Linked DNA regions of Homo sapiens: region 2 is linked to region 1. The links come from fine-mapping of genetic effects on gene expression. Tissue or cell type: whole blood. Region 1 holds a variant in brackets; the other region holds the start of a gene. All regions are shown on one strand. Distances are from middle to middle.

What was found. PIP is the estimated chance that this variant, and not a neighbour inherited with it, causes the effect.
Region 2: it holds the start of SERTAD2, and the variant in region 1 is fine-mapped to the expression of SERTAD2 in whole blood (INTERVAL, PIP above 0.99).

Annotation. Positions count from the first base shown.
Region 1 is chr2:64,628,651-64,639,104 of GRCh38, reverse strand. SERTAD2 (SERTA domain containing 2) reads left to right here. Exons shown (of 2, transcript NM_014755.3): 2 at 2,230-7,484. The coding sequence starts at 2,234. The coding sequence ends at 3,178. It overlaps SERTAD2-AS1 (SERTAD2 antisense RNA 1), which reads right to left and starts at 2,181. Exons shown (of 2, transcript XR_940172.3): 1 at 1-2,181. The variant TTTGAAG/G (reference allele first, on the strand shown) is at 6,204.
Region 2 is chr2:64,649,624-64,660,077 of GRCh38, reverse strand. It overlaps SERTAD2 (SERTA domain containing 2), which reads left to right and starts at 6,165. Exons shown (of 2, transcript NM_014755.3): 1 at 6,165-6,458. It overlaps LOC124907776, which reads right to left and starts at 6,007. Exons shown (of 1, transcript XM_047446580.1): 1 at 4,855-6,007. The coding sequence starts at 5,798. The coding sequence ends at 5,367. RefSeq lists silencers at 554-603, 5,532-6,351, 6,089-6,383, 6,492-6,821, 7,122-7,201 and an enhancer at 4,591-4,750.

The DNA.
Region 1 (10,454 bases):
CTTTATATGAGAATTAAATGCACTTAGCTCTTTAGCAAAAGTGAAATTTTTCTATAAGTATTTAAATGCTTAAATTATAAGCAAATACCAATAGCATACCTGTGAATACAGTTATGTTTCAAAACCCAGTTGTCCAGTAGTACCTCTCATGCATGAAGTAGAAAACGTTTTGCAATATGAGATGAAACCACCTCCACTCTGATTCACCTTCAAGTTTAAACAGATACTTTAGATAGGAAATGTTCTATGCAAAGTAAATACACAGATGAGAATTTTAGCACTAAACAGTAGGAAATATGTCTATCACTTGAAGTATTAGACAAACCAACTGTTACTATCATAACCTTTATTGCCCTGAAGAACAATTAATTACTGGACTGGTCATTGTGATTGACATTGACAGCCATTTTTTAAATGTTAACAAAATGAGGGGAAATGTTTCATGCAAGTAACTCCACATTCTTCATAAGTATTAACAAATCTCAAGCCGATTCTGATGTTGATAGGTCGCAGCTTGTTCATCTGTCTCTTCTGGAGACCTCATGAGACATGAGGTAAGACGGTTACCCCAAGTGGCAGGCTCCATGTCTACCTGTATACTGGCCTTGAGGGCAGCATGGCCTGCTTTGTGACAAAGTATGAGAAAGAAGTTCTGTGAAGTTTATATTCCATTTAGCCTTATTTCTTTAGGTCGAGACTTGAAATTCAAAATGGTGATCAGGTGTAGGAGGGGCTATTTAGCCTCTTGAAGGCCAGGGTGTTCATGTGGGACTCCCCACTGGGCCTGGCCAAATGCCTATGACAGTGTAGATGTGGATAAGTTATTAAAGGATTGAATGAGGTGTGATCAATCAGCTGAAGCAGTTCATTAAAAGGTAAGTGGCATTTAGAAGAGAAATTGAATAACTACAAAGCAGTTGCCTGTATATGAAGACATGAGAGTGAGTCACACTGAGGACAGGATTAGCAGGAGTCCCTGAGAGTGCTGTAGCTGGAGGCGGGGACGGTGAGGGAGCAAGCATGGGCCTGGCTTCATTCGAACCACGATCCTGGTCCGAACACCAAAAGACAGGTTTCTTGTTAAATGGTTAGAAAGTGAGATCTTTGAGGCAAAGGCTAATGAACTTGAGATTGTTCTGTTTAGACAGTAGAAGTTCTGAAAGGAGGTTGTGACGATGTCACATGATCTTGGAAAGTTGGAAGGCCCACTCCCCAGAAGGTGACAACCAGTTGATAAAATGTATTCACTAAGGCCAGAGCAAGAGAGGACACAGCCTGGCCTGTGAGCAGCAGGCAAGATGGGGCAGGAGTTCCTGGCTGCAGTTTTAAAATTCAACCCATTACCAGATTCTCAGGGTCTGAGATATGAGGTCATGGTTTCCTCAAAATATGCATGTATCTCTGGAATCACAGGAGGTAGTTTGTTAGGAAATGTCTCGAGTACCCAAACAGCAATGCTTATAATCAGAGCTAATTACTTCAAAATTAATCCAGTTGTCTTCAAACATAACTGTGTGTGGATGAAGTTGAGCCAAGGAAGAACTTAGGCTGGGACATACGCATTCCTCCCCTTGATTCTAAATGAAAAGTGGCGGCGGCTCAGTCACTGTGGTCATTTAACACAGGTGCAGTGCTTCACCACATGTCCCCAACCAGGCAGAAAGACTCCGTGCTTAATGAGGAAGGAAAAGCATTTTGAAAGCACACACAGTTCTACCCAAATTATACATGTTACCTTTCTTTAACTTGGTTCTTTTAATCCTTTAAGAAGTGCTCAAGCTGTAATCTATGACACCTGTATCTGTTTAGGTCATAGCATTGTAAGTGTTTTCTTGGGCTTTAAAAATAAATCTACGTGGGGGAGGGAAATCGAACCTGCATGATAATCTTAGGCATGCGAACACAAGCACATGAGCTGAGAAAGTCAAAATCATGGTTTCCATGGTAATTCTTAACTTGTCTGTGTCGTACACATTTCTCAAGAAATACACTCACCAGACTACCTAGTGATAAAAATTGCTCCACAGGCATACAAAGGTGGATTTTCTAACTCTCTCTTATTGTAAAAGGTCTTCCTTCCTCCCACCCCTAATTAATCCACGTGTACTTGTAAATAACCCTGGGCAGGAAACTGAGGTCCAAGTCCTGCCCTCTAAATCAGTCTCTTTTTTTATGGGAGAAATCAGCTTTCATGTGATTAATGCCATTTCCTCTCTCTCCCCTCTGCAGATATATGTTGGGTAAAGGAGGAAAACGGAAGTTTGATGAGCATGAAGATGGGCTGGAAGGCAAAATCGTGTCTCCCTGTGACGGTCCATCCAAGGTGTCTTACACCTTACAGCGCCAGACTATCTTCAACATTTCCCTTATGAAACTCTATAACCACAGGCCCCTGACAGAGCCCAGCTTGCAAAAGACCGTTTTAATTAACAACATGTTGAGGCGGATCCAGGAGGAACTCAAACAGGAAGGCAGCCTGAGGCCCATGTTCACCCCCTCCTCCCAGCCCACCACCGAGCCCAGCGACAGCTACCGAGAGGCCCCGCCGGCCTTCAGCCACCTGGCGTCCCCGTCCTCCCACCCCTGCGACCTCGGAAGCACTACGCCCCTGGAGGCCTGCCTCACCCCGGCCTCACTGCTCGAGGACGACGATGACACGTTTTGCACCTCCCAGGCCATGCAGCCCACGGCTCCCACCAAACTGTCACCTCCAGCCCTCTTGCCAGAAAAGGACAGTTTCTCCTCTGCCTTGGACGAGATCGAGGAGCTCTGTCCCACATCTACCTCCACAGAGGCGGCCACGGCTGCGACTGACAGTGTGAAAGGGACCTCCAGCGAGGCTGGCACCCAGAAACTCGACGGTCCTCAAGAGAGCCGCGCAGATGACTCAAAACTGATGGACTCTCTGCCTGGGAATTTTGAAATAACGACGTCCACGGGTTTCCTGACAGACTTGACCCTGGATGACATCCTGTTTGCTGACATTGATACGTCCATGTATGATTTTGACCCCTGCACTTCCTCATCAGGGACAGCCTCAAAAATGGCCCCTGTGTCTGCCGACGACCTCCTCAAAACTCTGGCTCCTTACAGCAGTCAGCCTGTCACCCCAAGTCAGCCTTTCAAAATGGACCTCACAGAGCTGGACCACATCATGGAGGTGCTTGTTGGGTCCTAAGACCCAGGGACCCAGCGACTATGCCCACCCAGACCCCAGAGCGTTCCCATAACCCTGACAGTTCTCCACACTGTGCATGCACCCTTGCTTGCCTTTTTCAGAGAAAAAGAAAATTTTACAACAGGATCACACTAGTTTTTGCTTTGAGCAGAGTTGGAGTGCCTTCATCCAAGTATGACCACTTTTAATACACTTTTTTGAGTGGTTCCTCAGAGACCTACTACCCTGGTATAGGAAAGAATCCATTTGAAGACAATGTTGCAATGTTGAATGACAAAAATAAACAGTTCAAGTGAAGCACAAGGATTAAGTTGGAAAAGCTGTAAATTGCATGTGCATATTTGTCTATTTTTTCTATAAGTTTTATTGCAAGAGGTAAAGAAGAAAACTATATATATATATCTTATTTAGATAATCTCAGTACCTTTTCTGGCATTTTTGCCCTGTATAGGTTGACTTGGCAATTCGGCCTTTTTAGAGGCATTAACTACTCCTCGTAAGTGTTGCATTTACATGGCTGTTTAGAAAACTGCTGCCCAAATTTATTTTATATTTTTGTACAGATTCTGCAGTTTATGATATTGTTTTTCTAAAAACAAATGCTGTTTATACATATGAGATAGCTATTTTGATAGGATTTGCTCACATAGTTCCTGCAAACTTCAGATGTACAAGTTGCACTTGTACTTTTATAGAGTTGTAATGTTTTATATGTGTATGGTGCAAGAGAAAATTGGATCAAATCAATCTGCAGTTGATGTCCCCAAATGCAAACACAGGCACACACATGCACACACCCATAAACACACACACAGTGCTTTAAGAAAGGGCCAGGTGATATCACACCCAAATTTCACAAGCACTGACCCCCTGGCACCAACACCCGCCAGTACTGTGACTTCCAAAGCCAGAGCCACATGTGCTCATCAAACTTGCATTAAGCAGTTGGCGGGAGATGGCTGTGGAGCTGGGGGTTTAAGTGATGGTTCTCTTTTGCTCCCTCTTTTGAGGGTAAAGCTACTGTCTTTCTTAAGAGTGTATTTATGCCAAGTTTGCGCTTTTAATTGTTTTTATTTTGTTTTTTAATGAAAACCCAGATCTTTCCTTTTTGGCATAATTTTTATGATGACCTGAAATTTTACATCCGAACAAAATTTTACATCCGAAAAGCAACCAACTTCTTCATGGAACTCAGCCCTGTTGCAATGCTTAGGGCCCTTAAAGAAGAAAATCTCCCCAGAAGGCATCCATCATGTTGCTTAATTGTCTTCTGCAGCTTCCTTTCCCTAGAGCTTTCCCTGTGTTGCTAAGAGCTGAAAATGGCATCTTCGTGATCACCACAGTGAGCTTGGCTCGCCTCGGCCGGCCCGGGATGCACTCTTACAACATGTGTGACTCTTGAACCTGGAGTTCATCACATTACGTCACAGCTTCCCATCTGGTTGCTTTCCTGAGTCAGCTACTTCACACTTGTCAAGGCTGTTTTACCCCAAAACTCAGACAGGACTTTCTATGCATGTTTTCCCTCCTCCCCCCAATTCCCCCCCCCATCACCTTATCTCCCAGGACACACTTGAGAAGTAGCTTTTTATTCCTAGTGGTGTACATTTAATTTTAAAAAGGTTGCAATGTATCATGCTTGTTGCCGAAACTGTTTATGGCCTTCTTGTTTCAGTTTTTTCTTTTCTTCCAATGGTACTTTAGCTGTTGAGTGCAGGTTACAACCTATATTGTTATGCAGATGGCTTCTTTAGGAATAACTTTTATATTTATTTAAAAATTTTTAAATTATGGGATGTTTTGTTGTTGTTGTTGTCTTTGTTGTTGGTCATTTGTCAATATTCAGTCACCAATTCTGCTCACTTCTTGCCATGGATAAAATTGGGTCTTTCTGGCTAATTAAAAAAGACAACTTTATAAAATGGCACTTTAAGCAAGCCATAGTTAGTTTTATTTTTGTAATGCACATGGCAAAGCAAAGACGTTTGTGATGAAGGAACTGCTCATCTAAGCAAAAGATTTGAGTATGATATGATAAAGGCTTTCTACATTCTAATTTACTTTTTCCCCCCACTTGAATGTGTTTTAAAGGCTAATTATCAGCTCAGTAGAGCAGTGAGAAACTGATCAAATTGCACTTGTTCTCCTACAAGCAACCTCCACGCAGACACCTCGTACTGCTACAGGTGTGTCATTTCCTTTAATAGGACCAGGGACCATGTAACTGAGGTGAGGGTTGTAGTAGATGCTTCCAGTGTCAGTATGCCTGTTAATTTTAAGAGCTTCCCTTTCTTGCAGAGAACAAGTCTGCCCAGATTCCATGCTTTCTATAACTGGAGGACCTGGCAAACCTGCCGCATGCTGCACACATCTACCTACGTACACATATACAATAGTATTGATGATTCTGAACAATAACAGGGTAAAACAGTTGGTTTGCCATTGTTAAAAACTGATTTACAGTAACTTACAACAACTGTACTTTTGTTGGATTAGCAAATCATGTGTTTAAACAAATCCCATATGTTGGGCAACAGTTCAAATAAGCACGGAGAAGTGTTGCCCAAACTTGGTTCTCTGACTCTTATGTATTTGTAAGGCTGGGCTTCAAAATCAAAACAAAAACCCCAAAAACAGCAGGCAAATGCTTTTTAACTCTGACACCGTTGCCATAAATCCCTGATACTCAAAGTCTAACAAGAAAGACATGGAAAATTAGCAGCCCATTTTCAGAAAGATCAAAATGATCTAGGGTTCTAATTGCTTTTGCATCCTATTCTTACAAAGTGATGTCCCAACAGGGAACAGTAGGAGCTGGAGTGGGATCTCCAAGTCCCAGTTTGAGTGTGGGATGTGCTTCCAGCAGTGCCTTCCCTTTATGAAAGACATCACATGGCATCCAGGGCCAGGCAGGCAGCTTGAGGTGCCTTTACGAGAAAACCGAGCTGGGGCTGGGAGAGGACAGTTATTGACACTGATGTGCAATGAAGTGACAAGATGAGAGCAGAATCGTAAGAGCTTTGAA[TTTGAAG/G]TGAGTTTTTTTCCCCCCATAAGTTATTTATTCCTTTTTTCTGTGTAAATATATTTATTTTACTGTGGAGCGCTAACATCTGGATCGTAACATGTGCAGAATGTATGGTAGGAATGTATTCTCTTGTAGGAATGTAAATCTGTATTAAAAGGGGGTCCAAGCCAGGCCCCCAGGTCTTCTCATTGTATGCACAGTCCGCATTCATTTTTACTCTTCTCTAATATGGGTCTATTTGAAATATGCAAAAGGTATGAGGAATGTTTTAATACCTCCAAATTTTTAAGAAAAGCATCAAAGGGTTGATATTTTTTAAAGTTTTTTTAGTAGCACTTTCTCTGGATGACAGAAGGAGCAACCACATGGGCACCCTTGTTCATACCAAAGGGTGAGCAGTGGCCAGAGCCTCCTCTGCACCTCTCGAGTGTCTTTACCAATTGAGCTTTTTATCGCCATAGCCCCTTGGAGTGCCCCAGCTGCCCTGAGGTCAATCAAGGAAAATTTCTTAATGAAATAAGCTCCAAAGAGCCAAAGTATCAACTTACAGATCGTTTTTAAAGCTTAAATTTATGAACCACCTTTGTGGTAAACAATGAATTATGAATACCGCAGGGCAGCCTTCTTAAATGACAAATGTAAAAAAAAAAAAAAAAAAGACTCTACTTCGTGCAGCAATTGCTACTCTATACGAATTGTCTTAATTTGAAAACCTTGCTGTTACAAATTGGACCTTTATACATTTTCTGAAAACAATGAAAAGAGTATATTTAACCTTTTCTGGCTGTAAATGGTTACCTTCCTGTAACTGCCCCGCACCTGGAGGCATGGAGTTGTGTGCATCCTGCTTATGTACAATTGTTTTCAGTGTTTCTAAGAATGAGTCTGAATGGTTCTTGAAAATTAGCCAGGATCAAATGCTATTGCAGACAAAGCCAATAAAAAGTTGGACTTCTTTTGGGGATAACAAGTTTTGGAAGAGAAATGCAGGCCATATGTGCGCATGACCGAGATTTTGAAAAAAGATGTACATAGTGACATGTTTGGTGCATGGTTTTTGAGGAGGGCTTTTGTCAAAAAGGAGGTATAACCTTTCCCCCACAGACCTGAGAGCTGTGCCTTTTCTATGCAATATTACAGACGTTACATCGGAACCCAGATGGCTGTATTCACATGTAGGTTTGGGCTGTAATCTAAACAATTGGACAGATTAAATGTACATGGAAATGAGCAGTCTTACTTTTGTAGTTTTATATTATACAATAAACAGTTAAAAGATGAGAGAGGCATGCTTGCAGTTTTCTTTTGATGGGAGCTCAATCAGCTTATTTGTGACAGTTTGCTCACATTAAGCAAAGTCCAGCAAGAGAGAGCAGCAGGGGGGCCCCGAAGGAGTGCGTGCTGTTGGTCTTCCTGAACCGTCCTGGTCTCAGGAACCACCCTTCTCTCCTGGTTCTCCTCCTGCTTCTTGGACCCTTCTGGACCTCCTTTTTCTCACATCTGTGCCCCAGCTCTCTTTAAAACATTGTCTTTTCCAGGGTTTGGCCCATGACTGCACTTCACTGAGCCTCCATTCCTGCTGCCTCTTGCTTTCCCAAGGTGATCTAATCCACTCAGGACTCTCAAAACTGGTCTCCAGCCCCTGCCTCTCTCCTGAGCTCCAGACTTCAGTATCTACCAAGATTTGCTCCCTCACTCTCAGCGCGTCTAAAGAGCTCTCGTTTCCCCTGGGGGCTGATTCTTCTGTGGGCTCGTTGTCTTCAGCACTCTGCTCCACGCTTGGCTCAGTTGCCCACCCTTGCACCCTGTTCCGCAGTCCCAGCCATGTCATTCCCTCTGCCACCACCTCTCCATCCTCACCATAGCGTCCCCAGCTCGGACCCTTTCTCTCTCCTTGCCTCTGACCGCCGTACCTGTTTCCTGACTAGTCTTCCTGCTGTGATCGTCTCTCTACCATCCCTGATGCTGGAGTTGACATTCTAAAATGCCAGTGGGTCACGTGGTTGTTGCACGTCCTCCAGGTGTACCCACTGATTATACCATCTGGACCCTGCCCCTGCTGTCTTCCAGTGGGGAGTGGGGGAGACCCTGTGCAACCTCCTTGGCCACTGGGCTGTCTTGGATGGAGTCATGGGATCTGGCCTCACCTGGCCTAGGCAGTTTTTTATTTTGGTGTGGTTGGGCCACCACACCACTGGCAAGGGAAAAGGGATGGATGTGTGAGACCTGGGAAGTGAAGGTTCAGCTCAATCAGCAGTGGAATGTGAGGTGGGGTGTGAAGTGCTGGGGAGGTGTTAGGGGCTGAATTGTTTCCCCCAAAAAGGTAGGTTTCAGTACCTCAGAATGTGACTTTAATTTGGAAGTGGGGTCTTTATAGAGGTAATTAGGTTAAAATGAGGTTATTAGTGTGGGCCCTAATTCAGTGGCTAATGTCCTTATAAAAAGATATTTGAACACATACATGCATACATGGAGAAGGCCATGTGACAGTGAAGGCAGAGACTGGGGCGGTGGATCTACAAACCAAGGAGTGCCAAAGATACCAGCAAACCACCAGAAGGCAGGAGAGAGGCATGGGACAGACACTTTCTTACGGCCCTCAAAGCAACCAAGCCTGCTAGCACCTCAATCCTGGACTTCTAGCTCTAGAAAAATAAATTTCTGTTGTTCCAGCCACCCAGTCTGGGACACTTTGTTTCAGCAGCCCTAGCACACTGATGCAGGGGTAGAAGAACAGGGCGAGCACTTTCCAGACACCCGGCGGAGATAAGCACCAGGCAACTAGGACGGAGGGTCCGTTGTTCAGTAGAGTGGTTTGTATCTGGAATTAGGAGCTTCTGCTATTAATTAATGATAAAACTTTGGCAAATCATTCAATCTCTGTATTTATGAGGATGAGATAAAGCGTGGCTCCCAGAGCTCTTTGAAAATGTTGACAGTACAATGAAAATGCAAATTATGAATGTCGTATCTGTCCTCATGCCTAGAGCTGTGCCCAGCATATGGTAGGCACTCAAAATGTTTGTTGAATGAAAAGAAGAAAAAACAATCTTGTAGTTCATCTTTCTTTATAGAATGAGAGAAGCCCAGCACTCAACATCTTTCTTGTCTGGGTCCTGGGTTCACACCACACTCGCCCTCAGGATGTGCTGCTTTGCCAGCACGCACCAGCAGCCTGCCTCCACGTGTCCTTGCTTGCACCTGCCCCTTCTGCTTGTGGAAATTCTGCCCATCATTCCAAGGCCAAACTCAAATGCCTGTCCATGAAACCTCTGCATGCCTGGAGTCAAAACCAGCCTTTTCCTCTTCTGGGCTTTCCCAGAGCTCCATGCCTCCGCAAATGCACTTAGCAAGTCCTGCCGCGTCTTCGGATTAGCTGTGCAGTTTGTTGTCTCTGTACTCCCTGTATCCTTAAGAGCAGCAACCCTGTGTTGTTTATCTTTGACAGAGGTTGGCAAACTGCAGCTTACAGGCCAGATCCTGTCCACTGCCTGCTTTTGTAAGAAAAGCATTGCTGGAACCTGGCCACGCTCGTGTATCTGTGTGTTGCCCTGTCTGCTGTCTTACTACGATGGCAGAGTTGAGTAGTTGCAAAAAGACCACATGGCCCTCAAAGTCTGAACTATTTGCTATTTGGCCCTTTACAGAAAAAGTTTGCCAAATCCTGATCTTTGCAACTCTCCCAATACTGAGAACAGCGTCTGACCATAGATGGGATAGGCTCAGGGCTACATAGACTGGGGACACACACCCCTGGAAAGATGAATACGGTACAGGCGTCAGGGGAGTCCTAAGGGTGCAGAATGCTGGAGGTGGGGTTTCGAGGGCCAGACGGGGCAGAGTAGTCTGGAAAGTTACACAAGAGTGGACATATTCAGAGAGCTTAAGACTTGGGAGGGGCCATAGAGCTAGATCTTCCCACCAAAGGGGCCTTTTTGACAGATGTGCAAACTGAGGCCCAGAGAGGGAAAAGGATTATTGTCTGGGGCAAAATAGTTTATAGCATCAGAGTTCAGTTTGGCTCTGCTACCAGATCTCCCAAGCTTGAATCCTGGCACCTACAATCTTGGGCAAGTTCCTGAGCCTCTCTGTGCCTCAGCTTTCTTAGCTATAAAACGGGGGAAATAATTGAGCTTGTCTCAGGGCATGGTGGGGATCAAATGAGTCAATGTGAAGCACGCTCGAGCATTTCTAGGGCACTGGAAAGTCCACAAATGTCAGTACAGCTAACATGATGGCAGACAAGGCTAA
Region 2 (10,454 bases), 21 kb before region 1:
AAAAATCAAATGCTGCTGTGTTTTAAAATGTTATTTGACTGATACTTTTCATTCTTAAAGTAAGTAGGCAGAGAAGAATCTTCATTAAAAAGTACAGAATGGTGAGATTCTGGCAATAATTTGGTGTTTATCTGCAAGGTTGTTCCCCGTGTAATGATCCTGTTAAAATTAACTCTTAACAGTACATACTTCATGAGAGAAATTTTAGCAGGAAAGATTAACCTCTTGAGTTTTTGAAGCTGGTGTAAGTGCTTCAGCATTCCTCATTGGTCCACTTATTGAGTGATCCCTATTGAATGCCTACTGTGTCAGGCAGTGCTGTAGAGGCTAGAGACAGGGTGGTAAACAAGAATGACTGTGTTATGAACCTTACTGGAAATGAGTGAGGGGCTAGAGGATATGATGAGTTTTATTTCTTTTTTGTTGTGGTGGTTGTGGATTATTAATTCTGTGGGATAAAATATGGTGCTAACAAGGCTAAGCATAGGCAGGATTGGAGTTTTTTGTATAAGAAACAGAATTGTTATTCCATGACCCATGTAGAGAGATGGAGCTAAGCAGCATCCAGTTCCTAGCCCAGCACTACCCTCCTGTTAGTCTCTGCACGTTGACTCTGTATTTCCTGGCTCTGCACCATCTGCTGTTTCTGAGGAGTGTATGCTCTTCTCAAGACGCTCAGCACTCCTGGCTTCCACAGAATGCTTCAGTGAATGTTAGATCCAGACTTTCTTTGACCCTGGAGTCAGCTTGATAAAGAGTTCCATTGGTAGGTCCTTCTCAGATCCTCTGTTTAGTCCTCTATGAAATGTGGGTAGTAGTACCTGCCCTGCCTATGGCACAGGGAAGGTATTATGAAGAGCAAACAAGTGGATCCATATGAAAGCACCTTGTGGCCGGGCGCGGTGGCTCACGCCTGTAATCCCAGCACTTTGGGAGGCCGAGATGGGCAGATCACCTGAAGATGGGAGTTCGAGACCAGCCTGACCAACATGGAGCAACCCCGTCTCTACTAAAAATACAAAATTAACCAGGTGTGGTGGTGCATGCCTGTAATCCCAGCTACTTGGGAGGCTGAGGCAGGAGAATCACTTGAACCCAGGATGCCGGAGGTTGCAGTGAGTCGAGATTGTGCCATTGCACTCCAGCCTGGGCAACAAAGAGCAAGACTACGTCTCAAAAAAAAAAAAAAAAAAAAGCCCCTTGTAAATTGCCTGCTGCTATACAAACTTAGGGGGTAGGGGTATTCCCAGTCTCACAGCTGGGTGACTTGAACCCTAAGGGGTAACAAATCTAGAAGAATATGGATAGAACTGCTCAAGTCCATCTTCTGGACTTAAAAAAATAATTCAAAGAACATATTGAAGAGAGCACATTATCATTATTTGTATTTCTAGTCCTTTCATTTAGAAATATGTGGACATGAACTTGGTTTTATATTCTTCCAGACAAGCTGAGCAGCTTCCAAAGCATTTTATCTCATTTTAGCCCTAAAACTCCTCCATGAGGATATTGACAGTGTAATCACTGTTTCATAGACTCTTAGCTCTAGGGAGGGGCTCTTGAAATCTTTGAGTCCAAGTTCCTTTTTTTGCCAGGTGTCGAAGCAGGCCCAGTGCAGAGGGTCTGATTCGGCCTCCCTGCTCGCTGTGGCTGACGAGCTAGCCCTGAAATCACCTAACTCAACAACCCTGTGCTCTTTTGACGAGAACTGGTGCTGATCCTAAATCCGTGACCAGTCAATTAAGAAACTAAAAAGTCATAGATTTATCATGGTTAAGTAATTAATGTGTACAAGATCTTCAAACTCCTAGTCCAGGACTTTTCCTGTCACCAGGCTGGTTCCTGGGGGCAAGAAAGGTCTGTGCAATTTCTAACATTCATTGAAATTTTCTGTGGAAGCTAGAAGTGTGCTCAGTGCCTTGAGAAGAGTGGGAACTTCTCAAGAATGATGGATGGCTTATAGACAGGAATAAATACATAGTCGATGCGTAGAGGCAATGTGTGTTGTGTAGGGAGCTGGGGATGGGAGATGTTTCTGAGAAGTGACCACCAGTCTTAGTGGAGTAGTGTCCCTACAGGAGGGAACCCTGGAGTTGTCAGAGTCACCAAGAAGGTTCTTTGCATTTTGATAGACTGCACAAGGCTTTTGAAGATTCAGTGGAAAATGGAATAGGAAGGAAGCTGATGCCTAACAGAAGCCATCTTCTCCAGTAATAGTTCGAAGGGACTGACCCCAAGTGCTAGAAAAAAAGGAAATGGTTTTAAAAGCATTTTCTTTAAATATTGCCATGAAGATTGTGTTTCAGGTTTAGATTTACATATTGTCAGATTTTTAAAAGAGAAAAAGGTATATCTTTAACAGACAAGTGAAACCTCCCTCAGAAGGTAAGAAGCAGTCGTTGCAAAGCAGTTCAATGTAACAACATGGAAAGCTTTGCAAAGGGGCCTTCACTGGAGCTGTAGTTCTGCTTTTATGAATTGTGACTTCAGGGAGGAGCAGAAAAAAACCATGACAAAAGCAGGTGGAAGAAGAGATGGAGAAAAGTTTGCAGAAGTAGAGGAGTTCACTTGCTGCTTCAATAGAATTGTTTTAAATTGTTAGTGGCTGAAAAGGACTGAATCTGCCTGTGCCATCTTTGCGAGAGTATTTACTTTTCCAAATCATTGTATCCTCTATTGACTCCTTGCTAATCAGTTAGGTGATGTGACTTCCAGAACTTTATTTTGAAGACTTATTCCAATATTCATTTATCCGAATGATGAGTCCACAGTTAGGATCTCCGTATTTTCCATGAAAAGCTTATTTAGCCTAGCTGGCTCTATACAATTCATTTAATAACTGAAACATTTATCTTTTTTGCCATAAAACCAAGACCAATATTTGCAAGGTATATAGATGGATGATCATTACTGGCATTTCAGGTGGAACCTGAAAGATAAAAATTTAATAAAAGCAAAGGAAAAATGAAATTAAGTTCAAAACCTGTTGTAAAGTCTTTGTTTCTCAGTTTATATACCCAGTTTGCCCCTTGTGTTTTTGGTGTGTGCTAATTAAGTGCCAAAAGTGGCCTTCAGTTAGTGCACTAGTGTACTAGTCTATAAGATGTGAGGGCACAGAAACTTTCAAAGGAGAAGCAGTGAAGTGTAAACTAGTACCCAGAACTACAAAATGATGCCGAGAAGTACTTCTCTGAAATTAAACTCAGGAGCATTTTTAAAATTTACCATCACAGTTCTATACTTATAAAAGAAATGTTTCTTTTCTCCCTAAACAGATATGTTCCTGGTAGTTAAATGTGGATGACTAGCCTAATTTCTTATAACTGTTCTAAAGTTATGTTATATGAAAGTGAGAGGCAGATCTTCTAAATTCTGGATGAGGCCCTCAGAGTAGGATTATTTTAAATGGGATTTTGTTTTGAGACAAGATCTCACCTACATTGGAATGCAGTGGTGTGGTCATTGCTCACTGCAACCTTGAACTCCTGGGCTCAAACAATCCTCCCATCTCAGCCTCCTTAGTAGCTAAGACTATAGGCATGCATCACCATGCAGGGCTGATTTTTTCATTTTTTGTGGCGATGGGGGTGTCGCTATGTTGGCCAGAATGGTCAACTCCTGGCCTCAAGTGATCCTTCTATCTAGGCCTCCCAAATTGCTGGGATTACAGGTGTGAGCCACTGCACCCAGCCCTTAAATGGGCTTTTAAATCTCCCAAAGAGTGAGAACAAAATTTACATATTCACTAAACACTGCTTATTCAATGACATGATTTGAAATAATATTTTATTGAATAAATATTTCAAATCATGTCATTGCATACTGAAGGGAGCTGACTTCAGAAGTGTGGAAAGTGCCTTTCCTTATCCTCATAGACTTGAATTTCTAGGGCTGGGTAGAGATTGCTGTCCTGGCCTATGTGTGGCTCAGCCTTGGGGTAGGGGGTTGCATAAGGGGAGGGAGAGGGTTAACCAGCTGGTGTTAACCACATTGGCAGCTGTTGAAACTGCCAGCTCACTTTAACTTCTTGGTCAAAGATGCCAGATTCTAAAAGTGGGGGAAGTGGGAGCTATTTGTAATGTGTACATTGATAAGATGTTACAGCCTTCAGAGGTATAAAGAGATGGAAACTATTTCACTCCAAAAACGCAGGTTGCTGGTCTCGTTAAGAGCGCAAACCTTTGTTTGAGCAGGTACAGAATACAGACCTTATGGACTTCAGCAGAATCCTGTCTATCCTAGTGACACAAAATTGTCACTTTGACTTAAATCCTGTTATTTTATACAGAAACACTGCATTTGGTGTAATCTATTTGCTAGAAAATATCCAAGTGTCACAAAAGTTCTGCAAGTGTAACTTCCTGCTTACTTTAATTCAAGAATAGCAGTTTAAATTCACAAATAGCAGTTTAAATTCACCTTAAATTCAACAGAGCTAATGCCTCTGGCCTCCTCTACAAAGATATCACAGGAAGAGATTATTGCAGCTTCTATTTCAATGGCTTTTCCTTAAAGTGAGCACTGAAAGTATAAGTGAGTGGGTGGTTAGGAAACTGTTAGTAGTTAATGCCCTCTCTAAACTGCAGAACTCTGGAAATGAAAAATATCTTCGCTTCACAGCAAAATGTTTGAATGTTATGCCACTCAGGCGCAAACTGAGCAAGACCTGCAGAGGGCCGGTGAGCACAGCTTCCATAATATGTCATTTTGAATGCCATTATAATGAGACTTTGCAAAGATATCCACAAATAATTAGCTTTTGGCTTAGGTTATACTGTATAAGACTTTAATTATACTGAGGGTCCAGTAAAAACCTTTTCCATCCTCCTTAAAGATAAAACAAGAAGCGTTGTCTCCTCTATCAACATTTCAGCACAAGTTTAATTTCGATGAGATCATCAATTTGATTGATAACAAATCATTACAGAACAGTTTAAACAAGTCTAAATTTCTCTTGATGTTAACGACTTACAATCGCCTTTATGTTAGGTCTTAAAGCTTTATTATTCTTAAATACAACTAGTATAGTGGACCATTAAACTCCAAAGTGATCTGAAATGATATTGATTGGGGTGGCAGCCAAAATTTTAAGGTGCCTGCCTGCATTGCCTTTTACATCTTGACGCTGAATGCACGTGTAATTTTTAAAATAATCATTAATTTTCCAGTGGAACCATCTATCTGGCCTCTTTCCCTAGTGCTCTTAAATTCTCACCATTTGGGCATACACACATTCTCTTCCAACTAGTATAAATTTCCCTGGTAAATTTAAGTAGTTCCAAGCATAAGCTTACTCCACGGGAGGGAAAGGCTATCAATGTGAAACTTGTGGGCAGAGGACTGCGCCTCCGACCTGGCTGCGTCTCCTAGCTTGGCTTCCCTCCTGCCGGGTCTGCACCGAGCCCCGGCCGGCCCCGAAGGATGCAACTCGTTCGGTCCGGCTCCCAAAGTGCCGTGGACTTGGTGACCCACTTCTCGTGTCGGGCTGAGGCCACGCGGGCAAGGGACTTTTTCTGTCCCCGGCTCACGGCTGGAGCCCCCATCCTGCCGTTCGGACCAGTGCGGGCCTCGGAGGAGTGTCCCGCAGCGGACCCCCGCCCAGGAACCCCTGCAGGCAGCGAGACGGGCGCCCGGGCCAGCTCTCTGCCCCTCGCCCCCCGCGGGGACCCTGCCCGCCCCGCTGACCGGCCCCACGTTGCCAAATAGCTCAAATGCTTGTCATATTTGCGGTCGCGCGGCTCCGCGGGCTGTGCACGCGCTGCACTCGCCGCCGCCTTTGTCACCAGCCGCTTCGTCATTCGCCTGAGCACTTCTAGAGTGTGTAGGGGGCGTTACTAGTGGCAGTGGTGGTCCTCGGGCCGGAGTGTCTCCTTCTGTCTCCCCTCCTCTTTCAGCCCGTCCTTACGAGAAAATCAGGGGCGCGCCGGCCCGGCAGGGAGCTGGGGGCGGCGCTGCCACCAGGCGCCCACTGCGCCCCGCCGCCCCTTCCTGCTCCTCCTGCGGCCGCGGCCGGCCGCGGCCGGCCCCGGCCTTTATCGCGCCTCCCGGGACCGCCGGGGAGAGGCGGGCCGGGGCGGGGCCGGCGGGGGCGGGGTCGGGCGGCCAGGGGCGGGGCCTGCGGCGCCGGGGCCCGGAGCTCGCGGGAGGCTCGCGGGCCGCACGTCACTCCTGCACGGCGAGTGCTGGAGCACGACGTACCGCTCGCTCGGTCAGGGCGCCCCCTCCGCCCGCCTCCTGCTTCCTCCTCCGCTGCCTGCCGCCGCCGCCTCCACCATTGTATAATGCTCGGGGCGCGCAGGCAGAGAACGGCGGAGTCTTAGCTTCAGCCTCGCCTGCTGCCCGCTCCCCGGCGCCACCCTCGGGCCCCTGGAGCGGGGCACTCCGCATGGAGCGGGAGTAGCTGAGGAGTGGGCGGAAACCCCTCCTGATGCGTTAGTTCCCAGGTGGAGCTGCATGTGGTAAGTTCTCCCGGCGTCGGGCTGGAGGGGATCCGCGGGCGCGGGGGGCTCCGGGTGGATGGGGGGCCGGTGTTGGGACTCGGCCAGGGCTGGGAGAGCCCGGAGGGCGGAGGAGGGGCCGGGCGCCGCCGCGGGAGGGAGCCGGGGACGGAGCAGGTACGGGAGGAGCGCTCCCTCCCGCGGCCCCGGTCCGGGCCCCGCGCTCTCGGACCCCCGGCGCCTGCGGGCTGAGCCGCTGGGGGGCAGGGCCGGGGTCAGGAGGGGGTCGGGAGCTCGGAGAGCCGAGCGGCGGGCGGGGGCGCCTGGAGCTGTCGCCTCTACAGCTGGGATGTGTGTGCGCGTTGTGGCGGTTGTGTTGTTGTGAACGTGCGAGACTTTTTTTAAGGCTCGGATTGCTGGCGCGAAGGCTGCTTCACTTTTGAGTTCCGTGGCCGGGTTTGCATCCAACTTACTGTAGTGCGTTTTTGTGAATTTCCCGGTGTTTTTTTTAATAATGTTGAAAACCTTCCTCTCCACCCTCTTTTCTTTCGTCCATGCCCAAATGAATTGATTTGGGATCTACATGTATATTAAACTTAACGTCTCGTTGGTTTTTAAGTTAGAAATCTACAAGTCATCTTCGTGGTAACCGCCTATGACTGAAAGGGAGGGGGCTGAGGGGAGCCAGCTGTCCCAAGCCCTAGACTTTGTACCAGTAAGAGAGGGGGTGTCGTCACAGGGCCACTACATGGACAGAAAATCGTATTTTGTTTTGTTTTCTTGGCTATAAGTTACCTTTAGCAGAAGTGGTAGTAATAGATTGCGATGGGAGTCGAGTTTTAGGTTTAGTTTCTAAGTTTCACGAAAATATCAGGTATAGTTTGCATTGGAATAACTTTTTGCTTGCAAGCCGAGTCGTTTCAGGAGGTAGAAAGTAAGTTTTCACAGACACTGAATGGGGAGGACAGTCAGCAGAGTGAGACAGCCAGCCTCAGACCACAGCAGTTTTTATTTGAATCGAATTGGGCAGCCTCAGTTGGGCTTAGGGTAGAGAGTACATGTTTTCAAGCTTTGTTCATGAAATACGCTTTTTGATTTCCCAATGTATGTTAAGAAATATCCATAATGTGTGTAAAGAGGCTAGAAGTTGTAGTCACCAGGATTCCTGAGGCCCTAAGTGTTCACAGTAGCTTTTTGTAGTTAGAGACTAGTCCCTGACAAGAGTGAAGTGGGCTTTGGGCTTCGCTCCGCCCCTGAAGGACCGTCCACCTGAGAGCGTCTGGGCTGCTTGGCCGATGGGGGTTGGGGGTAGTTGCTCAGCTCAGCAGAAGGCATGTCTCACCCTGGCAGCTCCCATCCCTCCCCCTTTTTATAGCAGTCTATTCTGATATGAGTGTGCTAGGGTGTGCTGTGAAGATGAAAATATCCATCCTAAGATCCCAACTTCTGGAGTGAACAAGAATAGTTTGTTTGTGGATCTCTGCTTTTCTGTTTATTTTTTCAGGGTTTTTTTTCTTTTTATTTAAAAGAGACAAATGTTTAAAAGTTTTCCTTTAGCTTCATTGACTTCTTTAGAGGGGTATTATATGTTAATATAAAATTGTTTATGTCGTTCATTAAGTTTGGAATCCTTTAACAGTTTTTTTTTTTTACTTGTTTCACCCCCTAATTAAAATATACATAACCATGTTGTTCTCAGATGAGAAATCTTATTTTGGATTTGACATCCCCCAACCCCCTTTTTCCTTAACACCCGGCCCTTTTCCTTACTTCATTCAGACAGGTAAGGGAGAGGACTCACATTTTGTAAAGCCAACCAAGTGTATGTGTGACAGGAGGTGTCCTAGGGAACGGTTTTATTGTCAGGCGAATGTCACAGCGTCTTAGGTAACAGCTGCTCAAGCTTGTTTCCCTTGAAGAACTAAGAGAAGGATATTAATTCAGATTTAGAAAATCTTTACACTTCTGTTTGCTGAATTGTCCCTCTTTAAAGCTTTTCTATTTAATTGAGAAGCTAAAATATGAATTTTGCCCAGTTGCTACACACTGAATTATTACTGATAATGAGCCTAGTAAAATAGCACATATTTTGATATTTTAAAACTCATTCAAATTTGTGTGGCGACTGATAGCTTATGGTATCTGCTATTTTAAACAGGGTTCCAATGGCAGAGTAAGTTACAACACTACTTTAGAAAGGCACACACATGCATCACACACAAAAAACATTACAAAACGTATGAAGGCAGTTTGAAGATGTTCGAATGCAAATACATAAAAATTTCTATCAACTTGCAGCATGCTACTTTTATTATCAGTGTCCAATTATACTACAAGTTTACCCTCAGACAAAATATTTTACATTTTAGTAACTAAGAAAGGTGAAAGCTGGAACAGAAACTTTGAGAGGTTTCTTTTGCTGTGGTTTCTTGTTAAAAAGCACAGAAAAAAAAGTATGAAGCTTTATTTTATATTTCACATATATCAACAGAATCAAGACCACTTTGTCAATATTACCTGTGGAAAAAGCTATATATAGATAGGCGTATTTGGGGCCATGAACTTTAATTCACTCATAGAATTTTTAAAGCTTCTTGGCAACAGAAATTTTGTATTCACTGTCATGGCATATCCTATAGGAGATAGCTCTAGTTGCAATAGTTACTTGGTGCGTGAGAGAGAGAGCAAGCGCAGGCGCCGTCTCTGATTACTGAGTCCAAAGATCAGTTGTGTACTGAAGGCACCAGAAGGCAAGCTCCAGTTGACATGAAAATGGCCTCACAATAAGGGTGACACCAGCTCTCATAGGTCTTTCTGTTAATTAATACTGACTAGCAAAACATGAAAATCTAAAAGTGCCATGGCCACTTTATATGCACAACTCATATATTTTGTACATATTGTTAATAATTACTCATTAAGCAATTGGTAGAAAGCCACAAGCCAGGACTCCTGTTTAAGAAATGTGTGGCTATTTCATTTAGTTTTAGTATGTTTGAAGGAAATGGCTACTAATCTAGAAAAAATGATTGTCTCAAATGGCCAGTGCAGTTGATATTAAAGGCAAACTTATGCCCTGTGTGCAGATGCTGGGAAACCCTTATGAACAGAACTGTCCCCTGGAGCGTCCGTCACTCATTGTGTGGAGCAGTGTCTTTCTCCATTAGCACTGTGTGGCAGTTCATTCTTTGTATGAATCTGTGAATGGCATATGTCAGCCCAATAAGACGACATTCCTATTCTGAGTAATAAATAGACTCCTTGTTTTGTTTTTTTTTTCTCGGAGATCACGAGACAAACAAAACATGATTGGCTGTCTAAAAATTTTCTTTGAAATACAAATGAAAATTTTAAAGTAAAATATCACAATATATTTTATAATATATGATTTCTAATAGGACAGAACAGATACTGCCAGTTTGAACAAGCACCACATATAGACAGCGCAAACTCTCTTTTGAAAATTCTGCCCTCTTTGTGGTCTGAGGGATCCCAAAGCTGGAAAGACCCATTTGTCTTTTCTCAGAATCCTCTGTCCCTCATCTGAACTTAATGCTAGGATTCTCTGAAGTAAACCCCACAATTTGATTGATCTATTTTGGAAACCCAAGATCACCTAAGCTGTATTCCGCACCCATTGCAGTTTTCAGCTCAGAATGGAGTTGGCATCTGTGCTCCTGGCCGGCCTATTCTTACACTTGCACACTGTCTGGCCAGAGCTGGCCCTGCCTCCCCACAGGGACAGCAGATCAAGGGGTGAGTGTGCCCGGCCCACCTCCACCCTGAGTAGAGAGTGGACTGAGCTATGCGGAGGCGTGGGGTGGGGGCTGGAGGGAGAAGAGCAGAGGACAGATCTGGAGCTGACTGTGCAACTGCTATAGCAGGTCTGACTAGTTTGAGGTGCCCAAAGGCAGCTTTGTTTCTCTAGTAACTCCAGGTAGCAGCAAACTTCAGTTCTTAAAACTCATTCATGTCTGCCTTACTATCTTTTTTGTCACTTTACAAAAACCTGTAGCT